Regions from separate parts of the Homo sapiens genome. Here regions 2 and 3 are each linked to region 1. The links come from fine-mapping of genetic effects on gene expression. A gene starts in region 1. Each other region holds a variant in brackets. All regions are shown on one strand. Distances are between the middles of the regions. Region 1 holds the start of CCNJL (cyclin J like). Region 2 holds the start of FAM200C (family with sequence similarity 200 member C). Region 3 overlaps FABP6 (fatty acid binding protein 6).

The links. PIP is the estimated chance that this variant, and not a neighbour inherited with it, causes the effect.
Region 2: its variant is the best candidate, but not a certain one, in a credible set for the expression of CCNJL in whole blood (TOPMed, PIP 0.52).
Region 3: its variant is the best candidate, but not a certain one, in a credible set for the expression of CCNJL in left ventricle (GTEx, PIP 0.61).

What each region holds. Positions count from the first base shown.
Region 1 is chr5:160,309,519-160,314,744 of GRCh38, reverse strand. It overlaps CCNJL (cyclin J like), which reads left to right and starts at 2,181. Exons shown (of 6, transcript NM_001308173.3): 1 at 2,181-2,381; 2 at 2,773-2,887. The coding sequence starts at 2,822. RefSeq lists silencers at 1,963-2,022, 2,133-2,252.
Region 2 is chr5:160,398,564-160,403,789 of GRCh38, reverse strand. It overlaps FAM200C (family with sequence similarity 200 member C), which reads left to right and starts at 3,736. Exons shown (of 2, transcript NM_022090.5): 1 at 3,736-4,151. SLU7 (spliceosome associated SLU7) reads left to right here. Exons shown (of 16, transcript NM_006425.5): 16 at 326-2,149. The coding sequence ends at 505. RefSeq lists enhancers at 4,047-4,196, 4,090-4,775, 5,095-5,226. The variant C/T (reference allele first, on the strand shown) is at 2,169.
Region 3 is chr5:160,231,617-160,236,842 of GRCh38, reverse strand. FABP6 (fatty acid binding protein 6) reads right to left here. Exons shown (of 4, transcript NM_001445.3): 2 at 4,570-4,745; 3 at 1,934-2,023. Among named protein-coding and RNA genes, the nearest start is that of FABP6, 4.7 kb to the right of the region's middle. RefSeq lists a silencer at 3,394-3,443. The variant G/A (reference allele first, on the strand shown) is at 2,096.

The sequences.
Region 1 (5,226 bases):
ACGTAGGGTGTTAATGTTTTACATACCGATTTATCAGAGGTCTAGAAAGTAGCATCAACCTTTTGTCACATTTGTTAAAAATATTTTCTCAAATTTGTCGTTTGCCTTTTTGGCAATGATAATTGATGTATCTAGATCCTGCATATTTATTCAAATTTGTCTACTCACCTTGCCTTTGGTTTCTTCCCATGTCTTAGTATCTAGGCCTTCCCCTCCGTATAATTCGTGTATGTTTTCTTCTTATCCTCTTGTGATTTGCTTGTTTGTAGTTCTCTGAGTTCTTATATTTATTTTGGTGATATTTAAACAAGTCCTTAGTTTTACTTTTTTCCCCCAACCTAATTTATTAAATAATTTAGCCGTTTATACTTGTCCCAACAAAGTGAAATGCCACATTTATCATACAGTGAATTTTTAAATATATTAAATTTTCCTAGACTTTCAGTTATTCCACTGATGCTTAATCCATCCATTCTTGTGTGAACACTACACTGTTTTAACTATAGTGTTGCAATATGCTTTAAGATTTGATAATACAGGTCTGTCCCCCCAGTTTTTTTGTTCGTTTGTTTGTTGAGACGGAGTTTCACTCTTGTTGCCCAAGCTGGAGTGCAGTGGCACGATCTCGGCTCACTGCAACCTCCGCCTCCCAGATGCAAGTGACTCTCCTGCCTCAGCCTACCAAGTAGCTGGGATTACAGGCGTGCACCACCACACTCGGCTAATTTTTTGTATTTTTAGTAGAAACAGGGTTTCACCATGTTAGCCAGTTTGGTCTCAAACTCCTGACCTCAGGTGATCTGCCTGCCCTTGGCCTCCCAAAGTGTTGGGATTACAGGCGTGAGCCACCGCGCCCCGCCATCCCCCCATTTTTAAAATATAAATTTCTTAGCTTTTCTCGCAGATATTCTCCCATTTGAAGGTTAGAAAACATGTTAAGTGCCCCCTCCTCCAATCTACCCACAACCATTAAAATTTTATTAAATAGAGTAATTTGGGTTAAGTTGGTGTTTGTGCCTCTATTCCTTCAAGCCTTCTTTATTATGTTTCAACCTTTGTAATGTCTTCATTAAGAGCCTGCACATTTATTCAGTTTATTTTTAGGTATCTTACACTTTTAAAATGGTTCGTTTGTTTTACATTAAAACTGCTCTTCAAGGTCCAATTGAAGCTTATCAAAGCTGATTTAATTTTTTTTTCCCAGGTGTGTCTTTATGTGCAGGAAAGCAGTCAGAAACTAAAGGCTCTTCAGTCACAGTTGTTTACTGAGTGTTCACTTAATACCTGGTGTAGTGATTATCCCTTTACACGCATTATCTCCTTTAATTTTCAGCAGGTTGGTTTAACTTTTATTTCCATTTTACACACGAGGCTCTGAGTTTGAGGAACTTGACAAAAATCACCCAGTTGGTAAGTGGATTTGATTCCAAATTTGTGAATCTCCAAAACTATCACAAAAATCAATCAGCCAAGAAGGATAGCCCAATGCTATGCCATCAGATGGGCTGACTCAAAAGGATGACTTTCCAAAAGCAAGCAATTGAATTAAAAAGACAATGTTTTCCATCCACCGGACCCGGCAAAAAAAGACTGGTTTTCCTCCAATGTGAGGCATAGTTCATATTCTGCAGGAGCACAATAATACCAGTGACTTAGGCTCCTTTAGAATTAGGGACTCGTGGGTGAACAAGGGTGGTTTTTCTGCAGCTTTCACTGGAATTGTCCGTTTGGAAATCTACCTCCCCATGGCAGGGCGGGTTTCAAAGAAGAGGAGAACAAACAAAAAACAAAAACAGGAAAAAAAAAAAAAGAGAGAGAGAAAGAAAAACAGGTGGAACCGACGTAAGGATGGCTAGAGCAGTGCGCGCGGAAGGCAGAACTTTCTGGGGGCGTCCTGTCCGCACGTTTCACGCGTGGTGCGCGCAGGTGGCGCCGCGGTCCCTTTGCTCCCTGCGCAAGCCGGAGGGGTGCCCAGAAGGCTACCACTAGCCTCAGCGAAGGTGAGAGAGAAGCTTTCCGCCGAAGCGAGGGAGGAGGGCGGGCAGGAAGCGGAGCCAGAGCTGGCAAAGAAAGGCTCCAATTCCCAGCCCCCCGCCCCGCGGGGCGCGGGGGCGCCGGCAGCGCATGCGCGAGGCCCGGCCCCCAATTCCCCCAGCGAGGGAGGGAGGCCCCCGGCGGCCGGGAGCCTGCGAGCCGCGGCGGGACCCGAGCGCACGCAGGGGCGCGGCGACGGCGGGGGCTAGTCGGGCTGCGGAGGCGGCCGTCGGGAGTGCGGAGCGCCTCGGACGAGGGTCCAACCGCCGGCAGGCACCAGAGGGCACGGCTGGCTCGGCACTGGGAGGGGCCCGGCGCTCGCAGCCCCCCACGCCCAGAGAGGATGCGTGAGTTTCGCCCCGGCTCGAGGGCAGGATGTGGGAGCAGGACAAAGGCTGGGCGGCGGGGGAGGAGTTGGGGACGGCGAGCCTGTGGCCGCCGCCAGAGCCCCAGCCTCGAGCGAGCTAGCGGAGTTGACAACTTTCTCTGCAACTTTTGCAAAAGGGAAGATAAAAATTCTGCAAGTTGTTGCACAGCTCCATATCGCCCCGTGTCCGGCGAGCAGAGGGGAGGGGGCACCGCAGCCTTCCGCGGACCAGAGGCGACCTCCAGCTCCTCTGAGCGGCGCAGGAGGGGGCGCCCGCCGGGGCCCGGGGCCAGGGGCGAGAGAGGATAGGGACACCGGGGGTCGGAGCCCGGGGTACGCTCTGGCCGCTGAAGTTGCCCGTGTCCACGCAGGGTGCGCCCTGAGAGCCGGGTAGCCTCGGATAGCGGCGCTGCGTACGCGATGATGGATGAGCCGTGGTGGGAAGGGCGCGTCGCCTCGGACGTCCACTGCACCCTGCGCGAGAAGGTCAGTCCCTCCCTGCCCTTGTCACTCTCAAGACTGGGTACAGTCTCCTTCGGTCTCGACTTCGTGTTCTCAGGTCGCCTGCGTGGGAACTCAGAACTCCCGGGTGCCTTTTTTTCCTCTTACCCTTTACCTTCTCCCGGAGTGTCTGAGCGGAATTGGGGGGCGGGGGTTAGAGACTGGAGATGGGAGAGATTGAAGTTGGTTTTTCTGATAAGGAGCTCAGAACTCTGGGCCAACTAGTCAGAGACAGCCACTGTACCTCTAAGGCAGTGTTTCCTATAGTATTGCCACCCTAGGTTATTTTAAACCGTACGTGAAGGGGTCTTTAAAAAATATTGTGTATTCATTCTAATGTGTAATTTAAGAATGTGTATGTATCTAGCAAGCTCTGCGTTTGCGATTTTCCATTTATTGTAATAATGATGTCGCAGTTTATTTTAAAACAAATTTAAGTAAAAGTAGTAACTCTATATAAAGATAAGTGGTAGTACAGGGAATACATGGTTATGGCCAAATACGTGTATCTATGTGTATATCTAGAATGGGACCGAATGAAATTTAAGGAACACCTGTATAATTGAAAGAGGCTACAAAACAGGGAGGCTGAGGGAAGAAAACAAAAACTCCCCTGCCGGTTTGCCTCCTGTGGCAGAAGGTGGGTGGGAGCAGCTGAAATGTGATCCCTGCACACCCCTCCCCTCAAGGAGAGAAGGGCTGAGGGGCATTGGGAAGGTGGAAGAGTCCAGGTGGGCTGGAGGCATGGCCTGTGTGTCTTGCCTCCAGTCCCTGGGCTGAGATTGGCAAGGGGTGGCTTGGGGAACAGGTGTGAAGTAGTGAATGGATTGGTTTCCTAGGGCTGCCATTACAAAGGACCACACAAACTGGAGGGCTTAAAGCAACAGAAATTTATTTCAGCTCTGGAAGCTGAAGATCCCAGATCAAGGTGTTAGCAGGGCCATGACTCTCAAAAGGCTCTAGAGAAGGATCTTTCCTTCTTCCTTCTTAAATTTGCTGGTGCTTGGTCATCCTTGGCATTCCTCGGCTTGTAGGTACATCATTCCAGTCTCTGCCTCCACTGTCACATGGTGCTATCTGTCTGTCTGTTTTCTCTTCTTACAAGGATACCCGATCATTGGAGTAGAACCCACCCTAATCCAATGTGATGTCATCATAATTTAATTACATCTGAAAAGACTCCATTTCCAAGTAAGGTCACATTCTGAAGTTCCAGATTAACATGACATTTGGGGGGACACTACTGCGCCCAATACAGGGAGGAAAAGGTCTTCCTAGTGCAGTACCTGAGCCCCCACACAGGTTTCACAGTCAGTGCATTTGCTCCGAGTGTCTGGAGGAGTTCTGCTTAAAGGGTCACCAGCTACTCAGTGTTTTTACCTCATTGAGTAGCTGTCTTCCTGTCCAATTAATGCCTTTTTCTTTTCTTTCTGTACCTGCTGACCTGTCTTTGTCCTGCGTTGCTTGGCAAGGCTGTGGCTTTCATCTGTTCCCTTGGTCTTCTTCCCAGAACAGAGTGGCCAACGTGTGGCACATTCTAGGCATCTGGACAAGAAGAAATCCAGGTCTTGTTGGTTCAGTTGAAAAGCAAGGAAAGTGGTAGGGGTATGGTCCTGGCCCTTTTCTGGAGGAGGTGGCTGAATGGAGCTAGTGAGGACTGCCGTGGAAATTGGGCTTCCTTGTTTATCATAGACTCAAGTGGTTGTCATTTCTGCTCATAGCTTAGGAGGAACGACTTCTACCTGATTTGCCCCTTTCTAGAGGGAAGGATTTCTAAGAGCAATAAATGCCATTTGTTTAGTTACCTGAGAATGCCCAACCTTTTATACATAAGGGAGGATGTCCTAAATGTTCCTTCGGCTGCTCAAAGAAGCAAGAAAGGCTCCATGAACTGCTATAGCCATGTCATAGTGCCGTATGAGTTTACTATTGGGCTGCCCACCTCGGAGAGACGATGAGTTTGTCCCAGTTTTGCAGGTTAGAAATAGAAAGCTCACCCAAGGACTGATGGCCAAGGTCAACCTTGACTTAAAGCTGGCCTTATTAGGACAAATCCCAAGTTCCTTTGGTTATAATGTCCCACCTCCTCAAAATACTGCTATTGTTCTCCTTTACTTTATTTCCTCTCCCACTTCAAAGAAGAAAATGCTTCTTCAAAAATTTGGCTTCATGGAGTTTGGCAAGAAGAGTGAAGAATAGGGGAACTTAGTAGCCATACTAGCCTCGCCTTTCTTGAGGAATGAGGGCTGGCATTTTGTTTTTCTCAGACAGGGTAATTGTTTTTCTCAAATGTCTACTCTGATAATATGTTTCTAACACTGTAG
Region 2 (5,226 bases), 89 kb before region 1:
AGAATTGTAGTCTCTACCAGAAGCATCATTTGTGAGCTTGTATAAGTAAAGTGAACCTCATTTAATTTTTGTTATTAAATAAAATTTCTTCAACATTGATTTAAAATGTTATAGAATGTTTTGTGCTGTATAAAAATATCATATAAGCCAAATAGTGATTAGTTGTAGCTTGACAGTAGAAGGGCTGACTCCAAAGCTCTTTCAGGCAATCTGCGTTTTTGATAGAGCAGTTCATATTCAGTGGGGTGTGTTGGTACTCTGCCACTTTTGAAGAAAAGACATCTGATGTAGAGCTGTGATACACATTTTATTCCTCTCACTATAGGCACTGAACGCAGAGGAGGCCCGCCTTCTTCATGTCAAGGAGACCATGCAGATTGATGAGAGGAAGCGGCCTTACAATAGCATGTATGAAACTCGAGAACCTACTGAAGAGGAAATGGAGGCATATAGAATGAAACGTCAGAGGCCAGATGACCCCATGGCCTCTTTCCTTGGACAGTAGCAACTAGTCAGAAGACCATCCAAGATAGATGCAGCTGATACATTCTTTTCAGCTTCTTATTGATGATTGTAGATAGAAAAATCCTTGTTTATTCTTCTTGCTGCCTGGCTTTAATAAATATTTCAGATGCCTCACAGTAAGTTCACTCCTTTCCATACTGAGGAAACAAGAAAAGAAGAAGAGGCACATGAAGTGTGCTTTTGGGAATAGAATTTAAAATTGGATTAAGATTTTATTTCCAGTTTTTTTTATTTATTTATTTTTTTTTTTGAGACGGAGTCTTGCTCTGTCGCCCAGGCTGAAGTGCGGTGGCGCGATCTCGGCTCACTGCAAGCTCCACCTCCCAGGTTCACGCCATTCTCCTGCCTCAGCCTCCCTAGTAGTTGGGACTACAGGCGCCCGCCACCATGCTCAGCTAATTTTTTGTATTTTTAGTAGAGACGGTTTCATCGTGTTAGCCAGGATGGTCTCGATCTCCTGACCTTGTGATCCACCCGCCTCAGCCTCCCAAAGTGCTGAGATTACAGGCGTGAGCCACCGCGCCTGGCCTATTTCCAGTTTTATGTGAGTCATGTAAAAAAGCCTTGGCTCTCTACCTATTAAGAATGTCTCTTTCTCTGTATTTATTAAGCTTCAAACTTTATTGCTTCGATTTTTGTGGCCCTATATTTAGTATTAGCACACCTTGGTTTTGAGAAAAAAACAGGGCTTTGTTTTTTTAAATAATTACTAGCAACTCTGTGACTACATTTATTTTTATTTTTTTTAGAGACAGGATCTTGCTATGTTGCCCAGGCTAGAGAGCAGTGGCTTTTCACAGACAAAGTCATAATGCCCTGCAGTCTTGGGCTCAAGCGATTCTCTCTTCCTTGGCCTCTGGAGTAGACTAAATGTGTTAGTCTTTGAATGGAAAACAACTATTTTCTCATCATTGGGTCAATATTGACTGATCAGTAGTAGGTCTTTTACCATTCTGGACATAAGTCTAGGTGTAGAAATCCTTTCCTTTATCATAGAGGATATGGTTTACATTACCGTTTGTTTTCATTGTGATTGCCCCTATGTAACAATCATGAATATTAGATTTTTTAAATTGTAGAATATCCTAATATTTATAGCCAGCAGCTGTTACTTTGTTTGTAAAATTTGCAAAAAAACAAAACCTGAAGTTGGTTTATTGAAAGAATTATAAGGATAGCTTCTAGGGATATTAGTAATAGATTGCCATGATCCTGAAGCCTCTTCTCAGAACACTGTGAAGATAATACTGACAGTAGAATCAGTGAAAACAGCCTAACAAAACCTCTGACATCAGTATATCAACTTTTAACAGCCCACTCACTGGCTTTTCTAAACTACCAAAAACCACCTGTAGGATACTGCATTAAGTCAGCATCTCAGAAACAGTGGTGTGAGTAACTGAGTCAAATTGTCAAGTACTTTGGATATACATAGTGTCGAGCTTTAGATTGGTATGAAATTAAACAGCAATGCAAATAGATTTAATTCCTATTTACTTTAAGAATGAAAAACAATGTTCATTTTCCTACCTAAACAGGGTGGTTCAACATAAAGGCTGATGTTGTGTCCGTTTTGTATTTTATCTTTTGTTAAAGATACATAAATGACAATACTTAACTGTGAGTGGTTTGTAGCATTATTT[C/T]TAATATTTGGCAGAAAAGTTGTTTATGGGACAGGGAGGGGAACCTGGATTAGCTTCTGTGAGTTTAAGAAAATTTCAGCATCTTGTCACCTAACCTTTCTGGACCTCTTTCCCTCTTCTATGAGGCCTGGTTTACTTAGATTTAGGAAGAATTCTGTAATATCCAGAATCATGTCTTCTGTTTTATTTTGGAAAAGTAATGCCTAGCCAGCCTGGCCAACATAGCAGAGCCCTGTCTCTATGAAAAATACGAAAATTAGCTGGGCATGGTGGCACACGCCTATAATCCCAGCTACTCAGGAGGCTGAGGCATGAGAATTGCTTGAACCCGGTTCAAGAAGTTACAGTGAGCTGAGATTGCGCCACTGCTCTCCAGCCTGGGCAACAGAATGAGACCCTGTCTCAAAAAAAAAAAAAAAAAAAAAAGAAAAAAACATAATGCCTAGGACATTACTCAGATTGAGCTTTGATTTTATTATCTCAATAATAGCTGCCTTTTGAGTGCGAGAATTATGTACTGTAATTGTCATAATGTTATCTCCTTCCTCAAAAGAATTTCATGGGGTAATGGATGATATGTAAGTTTTACAAAAAGCACATGGAATTAACTCCAAGTAACCTGCACAAATCCTAACCGTTGGAGTCAGGACATGAAGCTAGCTGTGGGATTCTGAAGCCTACCCCTTTCTCTAGTATTGAAGGCCCTAATTTCTTGACCAACAAGGCTGGTCTTTAGCAGTTTCTTCCATCCACAAAAAACTTCAGCAGCCCGTCAATATTTACCAGGCTCACCCTTAACACCTGAAAATGATGTATCTGGCCCACATTCGTTGACGCCCCACCACTCCTCACACACACTAGTCTTATGGAATGCTTCTAACAAGATTGTACAAAAATGAGTAAACTCATTAAGTTTATAAGAATTCTGGAAAGACCCCCAAACAGGAAAGGGCTATATTCCGGTTTCTTTCAACAACGTTTCCTAGTTTCTACTTGGGATTTTTCTCTAAAACCTCTCTAATATGGGTTTATTTCTTTGAAATCATGTTGTTGAAAGAATTTAAAATAAAAATATTTCAGATATATGATGATGACATGGAAATTCATCCCTATGCTCCCACTTACGGAAAGTGGGATCAGCTTGCATAGGCAACAGTACACAAGCTATGGAAGCTCATCCTCCACTGCTGAAATGTCTAATCTGAAATTACAATGAGCTTCCTTCTCTTTTTCTCTCATTTATTCCACATGGAACATGGCAATTATCAGGCGTTTTATCTCCAAGCTCAAAGCCCGACACAATATAAAAGTTTAAGTGCTCTGCATGTTAAAAAGAACTATGTGGAGTTTACAGCCCCTTCCATTCCTGAAATTGTACAGTTCATCCTCTCTGGCAGACACAATAAACAAACGATTTCTTGTTCCACGTACACAATCTTAAAAAAAAAATTGGGAAGGGCTAGCGCGCATGCTCAATACTCAAGCCAGCCAGCCCATCCCACAGCCCTTTGCTACTGCGCCTGCGTGTGGGAGACGCCTCTCCCAGTTTGCGGGCGGGAAGCACCCTGGAGAACCCGGATGGAACCCGGGCCTGGCTGAGGCGGAGGTTGTTGCGGATGCTTCTCTCTCCAGGCGCACCGCAGATTCCTGCCCGGGGGTTGGACCCGAGGAACCGCCGTCTCTACTGGTTCCGACGGCCAGAGGCTGGGCCCTAGGCTGAGCGGAGAGTGGGACTGGAGCCTGAAACGGGCGCCTAAAAGAAGCCCGTGCATCCCATAGGCCTGCGCCTCAGGCTTGGAGACGGGCGGGCGGAGACCGCGCTGAGTCTTTTTTTTTTTTTTCCTAGCAGCTGGCGTTCTTATCTCACCCGGGAGGCTGTAAAAATCTCCGTCCTTAACAGTAACACCATCAGGTCCTATCAGTTAAGAGCTGCTTGTTATTTGCATGCATTCTTATAATTAAATCTCCTAACAACCCTGTAAGGTAGGTACTGTTATCCCCTCTGGAGGAACTGAGGCTTGGAAAGGTCCCATCCTGTAAGTGACAAAGCCACGATCCCAGGCGTTTGCCCCTGGAGCGTCTGCCCAGCCACCAAGTTCCTGCCCCCATTCTCCTGGCTATTGATTTTAACTGTAAAATGTAATGGTTAAATGCTCTGCCTCCCCAGACACCTGCGCCTATCATGATCTTGCATACGCAGTGGCTAGAAAGAAGTTGAATTGTATTTGGTTTGGAGTTTTAGGTTTACAGCTGCACTTTGGTGTTTTCACTGCTGGAATATATATATATTAGCATTCCCTAAATATTTGTTTTGTGAGTGTTCACTTTTAACTGATTTTTCTCATTTGTAATACTTTTTCATATCTACCCTTCATAAACTTGCAAAAACATTTTACTTTGTTATATCAGATCTTTCATTAAGCATCTGAAGATAATCTCTCAAAAGAATCATGCTTAAAATGAGTGATATCTATCTTAAGATAATGCTTTTTATCTTTTTATTATGGAAAGTTTCCAAAATACATTAAAATAGAACGGTGTAATGATGTATACCCATCATCCAGCTTCAAGAGTTACCAACTTAAGGCCAGTCATTTCTTTTATCTCCACCCCGCTTTGTGCATGTTTGTGAGTGTGCTGAAGTACGTATTTCAAAGGAATCCCAGACATCTTATTTCACTTGTAAATAATTGTCTGTATCTAACAAATGAGGACTTTTTAAAAACACAACCACAATACCATTATCATGCCTGTTTAACAATATCTCCTTATCATGATGCTTTTTAATGTTTACGTTTTTTAGGATATTGTAATTCCTAAATACCACAAAAGCGCAAGTGCAAATTGTGAGGTTCTAAAACACAAGCCTCTTGGGCAGTAAGTTCATCTTTGAGGCCCTTGAAAATTCTTGCCACCTGTTCTCCCTTTTTGAGGGTTATGGAGAAGAATACTTTAAATTGATTTTCCTAAAACTGTTCAAAACAGATAAATTTTAAATTAAAATATACTTGAGAGACATAGTCAAGGTGGATAGGAATGGACTCTTAACAGATCTTGT
Region 3 (5,226 bases), 78 kb after region 1:
ACCTGGCTAATTTTTTTTTTTTTTTGTATTTTTAGTAGAGACCGGGTTTCACCATGTTGGCTGGGCTGGTCTTGAACTTCTGACCTCAGGTGATCCACTTGCCTCAGCCTCCCAAAGTGCTGGGATTAGAAGCTTGAGCCACCACACCCAGATAATTTTTAGATTATTTAAACAAAAATGTTAAAGGGGGATAAAAAGACCCGTGGGCCTGGGCAGAAGAGGCAGGGGGCCTAGTCTAGAAGTCAGCAGATGAGATCTGCCTCTGCATGTACTAGTTGTGTGGCCACGGCCAAGTCCCTTGCTGTCTCTGAGCCTTGTAATGCTGCTCTGTAAAATAAGTATAATGGGAGGGCACGGAACCTCTTGGGCCATCTTATGGACTGCGCGTGTGTCCCCCCACCAAACCCATATGATAAAGGTCAAAGCCCCAGTGTGATGGTATTTGGAGATAGGACCTTTAGGGGGTAATTAAGTTATGAGAGTGGAGTCCCCATGAAGGATTAGTGCCCTCATAACAACAGACACAAGGCCTGGTGCAGTGGCTCACACCTGTAATCCCAGCACTTTGGGAGACCAGGGTGGGCAGATCACTTGAGGTCAGGAGTTCGAGACCAGCCTGGCCAACATGGTGAAACCCTGTCTCTACTAAAAATACAAAAATTAGCCAGATGTGATGGTGGGCTCCTGTAATCCCAGCTACTTGGGGAGGCTGAGGAAGGAGAATTGCTTGAACCTGAGGGCGGAGGTTGCAGTGAGCCAAGATCATGCCACTGAACTCCAGCCTGGACAACAGAGCAAGACTCTGTTTCGAAAAAAAAAAAAAAAACAGACATGAGAGAGATGACGTCTCCCTGCCATGTGAAGAAACCAGGACGGGGGCCCTCATAAGCCCCTGACCATGCTGGCACCCTGATCTTGTACTTTCCTGCTTCCAGAGCTGTGTGAAATAAGTGTCTGTGGTGTAAATCATTTACACCACAGTGTCTGAGAGAGGCAGTGTGCTCCTTTCCTCTTGACAGGGCTTGAGATGTGGGCACAAGAAAGCGAGAATGAGAGAGAGAGAGAGAGAAGGATCAAAGAAGGAGAAGCAAAGGGGTCACACAAACACTGCCTCCCTCATCATGTCTTCCCTGCTGGAGAGCTTCAGGGAGGAGGGAAGGGCCCTTTCTAGACCTACACGGGACCCCAGAGGGTCTCTGGCCCAGGTCACAGGCTCACAGTGAGGGAATGAAGTATGGAAATGCCTTCTTTTCCCTTTTAACCTCACGTTCATTCCTTCCACCTGGGGAAAACTTGGAGACCCACGGGAAAGCAACAGAAGTGAGAGGAAGGGCCTCCCAGGGCACCACCTCCAGTGTAGGAGGAGTGGGTCCCCAGATGTGTGTGTGGGACCTGCCAATATTTACAGAATTTTTTTAATTAGTTGCCAATATTTAATAGTGTGGAGATTTCACACGGAAGTGCAAATTTCCAACTTCTCTTGATAAATCAGAAGATCTGGTAGAAGGGGCCTGATGTCCCTCATGGAAAAGGAATGGAGTGGTGGCTGTCCTTTGAGGAGCCCACCTGGACCACCTCCTTTATTTATATTCTGGGAAGGATCTTCCGGGCTTCCAGTCTCGTGTCCCAGAAGCGGTTGAGTGTGAGTGCTGCAGTCAGGCTACTTAGCATCAAACCTCAGCTCTGTCGTCAAATCTGTGTGCTCCCTCACTTATCCCTGTGCTTCAGTCTCCTCAAATGGAGATAAAAATCCCCACCTAACAGGGTTATTTTGAAGACCAAATGACATCATGTGCATCCAGCACTCAGCATAGAGCCTGGTACAAGGGAAGTGCTGGTAAAGCCAGCTGCGTAGAGGCCTACTTCTGAGGGGCTGTGGCCAAGAGGCAGACAAATATCCAATAATCATCCCAGGAATCAGCATGACACTCACCTCCACCAGCTTGTCACCCACGATCTCTGAGGTCTGGTGATAGTTGGGGAAATTCACCACCAGCTTCCCGCCCTCCATCTGCACAGTGGCCTGGAATGGAAGCACAACATTAAGCCTGGGTTGTTGCAGGTGATTGGCAACTATCTGGGGCTGGTGGCGCGG[G/A]CAGTAAGAAGAATTTACCAAGGCCAGGCACGGTGGCTTATGCCTATAATCCCAGCACTTTGGGAGACTGAGGCAGGCGGATCACTTGAGGTCAGGAGTTCGAGACCAGCCTGGCCAACGTGGTGAAACCCCGTCTCTACTAAAAATACAAAAAGTAGCCCGGTGTGGTGGCTCATGCCTGTAATCCCAGCTACTTGGGAGGCTGAGGCGTGAGAATCACTTGAACCCGGGAGGCAGAGGCTGCAGTGAGCAGAGATCGTGGCACTGCGCTCCAGCCTGGGCAACAGAGCAAGACTCTGTCTCAAAAAAAAAAAAAAAAATGAATTTACCAAGACAGTTGTAGGTAAAAAAAAAAAAAAAAAAAAAAGTCAGATTTCTTAGAGAAAGTATGAAAATATGTTGCAAGGGTGCACTGGGCAGGACAGCAAGAGAGGAGCTGACTGCAAGGAGACAAAGTCTTGCTGGAGAGTTTATAGACTGTTGCTTATGCTGTGTGCTGAAGCGGGTTTTGTGCAGTACTGACAAAGCAAAGGTTATGGTGAGATAACTTACATTTTTCTATCAGTGGAGGTGATGATAGCTGGGCACAGGAAGATTGTGAGTTATTTGCACAGGAGGGCTATGTGTTCTGGACCATGAAGAAAGGCAGACTTACAGCTTATCTGCTCTCCTTTTTTGCTTTACCCTGCTGCCGCCAACCTGACTCCTTTTCTATTATTAGAACTCCACATGGGTCACCAGAGGCCTAATGATAGAGGCAAATAGCTGGGGTTCAAATCCCTGGTCCCACCATGTTCTAGCTGCAAGGCCCTAGACACATTACTTGGTCTCCCTGAGCCTCGGTTTCTTCACTTCTTTTTTTTTTTTTCTTTTTTTGAGACGGAGCCTCGCCCTGTTGCCCAGGCTGGAGTGCAATGGTGTGATCTCGGCTCACTGTAACCTCCGCCTCCAGGGTTCAAGCGATCTCCTGCCTCAGCCTCCCGAGTAGCTGGGATTACAGGCACCGGCCACCACGCCTGGCTAATTTTTGTATTTTTTGTAGAGACAGGGTTTCACCATATTGGCCAGTCTGGTCCTGAACTCCTAACCTCGTGATCTGCCTGCCTTGGCTTCCCAAAGCGCTGGGATTACAGGCGTGAGCCACCGTGCCCGGCCAGTTTCTTCACTTCTAAAACAAAAGCAAATGACTGCATTTTTTCTTCTAGCATTCATTATGTGGCAGGCAACATGCCAGGTGCTTTCATGCACTGTCTTGTTTAATCTTCACCACAGCTCTTGGAGCTAGAGATTGTATGTAGTCTCCTTTTGCATACTAGAGATATGAGGCTCAGGGGAGTGAAATGACTTGCCCAAGGCCCTACAATTGCTGGTGGGAAATCATGGTTTCAAACCCAGCCAAGGCTCACTCCAGGGCCCAGTGTCTTTATCTCTGTGCTACACAGAGAGGCAGCATAAAAAAAGCACTTATGGCTGGGCACGGTGGCTCACACCTGTAATCCCAGCACTTTAGGAGGTCAAGGTGGGCGGATCACAAGGTCAGGAGTTTGAGACCAGCCTGGTCAACATGATGAAACCCTATCTCAGCTAAAAATACAAAAATTAGCCAGATGTGGTGGTGCACGCCTGTAATCCCAGCTACTCAGGAGGCTGAGGCAGGAGAATCGCTTGAACCCAGGAGGCAGAGGTTGCAGTGAGCCGAGATCATGACACTGCACTCCAGCCTGGGTGACAGAGTGAGTCTCGAATAAAAAAAAAAAAACACTTATGCTCTCTAGTGCCTGGTGTAAAGGCCTGCCCCTGTTGTGTAACTAAGGCAAGGTTTTTTTTATTTTTATTTATTTATTTTTTTGTGTGATGGACTCTCACTCTGTCGCCCAGGCTGGAGTGCAGTGGCATGATCTCAGCTCACTGCAACCTCTGCCTACTGGATTCAAGCGATTCCCCTGCCTCAGCCTCCTGAGTAGCCAGGATTACAGGCATGCACCACTATGTCCAGCTAATTTTTGTATTTTTGGTAGAGATGGGGTTTCACCATGTTGGCCAGGCTAATCTCAAAATCCTGGCCTCGAGCCATCCACCCACCTCGGCCTCCCAAAGTGCTGGGATTACAGGCATGAGCCACTGTGCCTGGCCAGCAAGCTTTTTAATCTCATGATTTAGCCTCCCCGATCAATCTGGAGAGAGTAATTGTAGCAATTTCATAGGATTAACTGCATTAAGATGGAAAAACTATTCAGCAAGTGTCTAGCTTATAATAAGTGTCCAGCAAGTATTAGCTATTTTTCTTATTGTTTTAGTGCCCATGTTTGACCATTAAAAATCAGGAGCATTAAATTGCCAAGTAACTCAAGCTCCTAATGCTGGAGGCCAAACTGGAGAAAGAAGCCTCAGCTCGGGAGCGGGGAGGCCATGTTTGAGAAGGAGAAGTCAGATGGAGGCCTGGGGAAGGAGGGGGACAGCCAGTGGCCTCTCACCTTGAACGTCTTGCCCCCCATTGTCTGTATGTTGCTTTCCTTGCCAACAGTGAACTTGTTGGTCATGGTGTGGCCCCCGGAGTAGTGCTGGGACCAAGTGAAGTCCTGCCCATCCTGCTGCACCTCCGTGACGATCTTGAAGTTGCGGGCCTTTTCGATTACATCGCTGGAGATCCCTGGACCCGGGGACAAGCAGAGTAGCCATATAAGAGCTGCTTTTAACCCTGTGGTTTGGGAAAAGAGCTTTCCTGCCCACCCCCACCGCCCTACCCCCTTGTGCATGATAGGCTAGCCTGCAGGTTAAGAGCACAGTGCCTGAGACAGCTAATACGTGCTGTGAGCCATGTGGCTGGGGAAAGTCCCTATCTCTCTGAGCTTCAGTCTATTCATCCACAATATGGAGATAATAAGGCCCATCCCAAAAGGCTGTTACAAGAATTATATTCAATGTGAGTGTGTTTGTGAAGCTCCTGGCACATGGTGGGTGCTCATCAATAATAACCAAGCTTCTGATAGTAATATAAATATAACTGAATCTTGCCAAGCTCGCGAAGTTCTGGAATGAATGAGACTTTCAAGACCAGGTATGGTGGTTCATGCCTGTAATCCCAGCTCCTTGAGGGCCCGAGGCAGGCAGATCGTTTAAGGTCAGAAGTT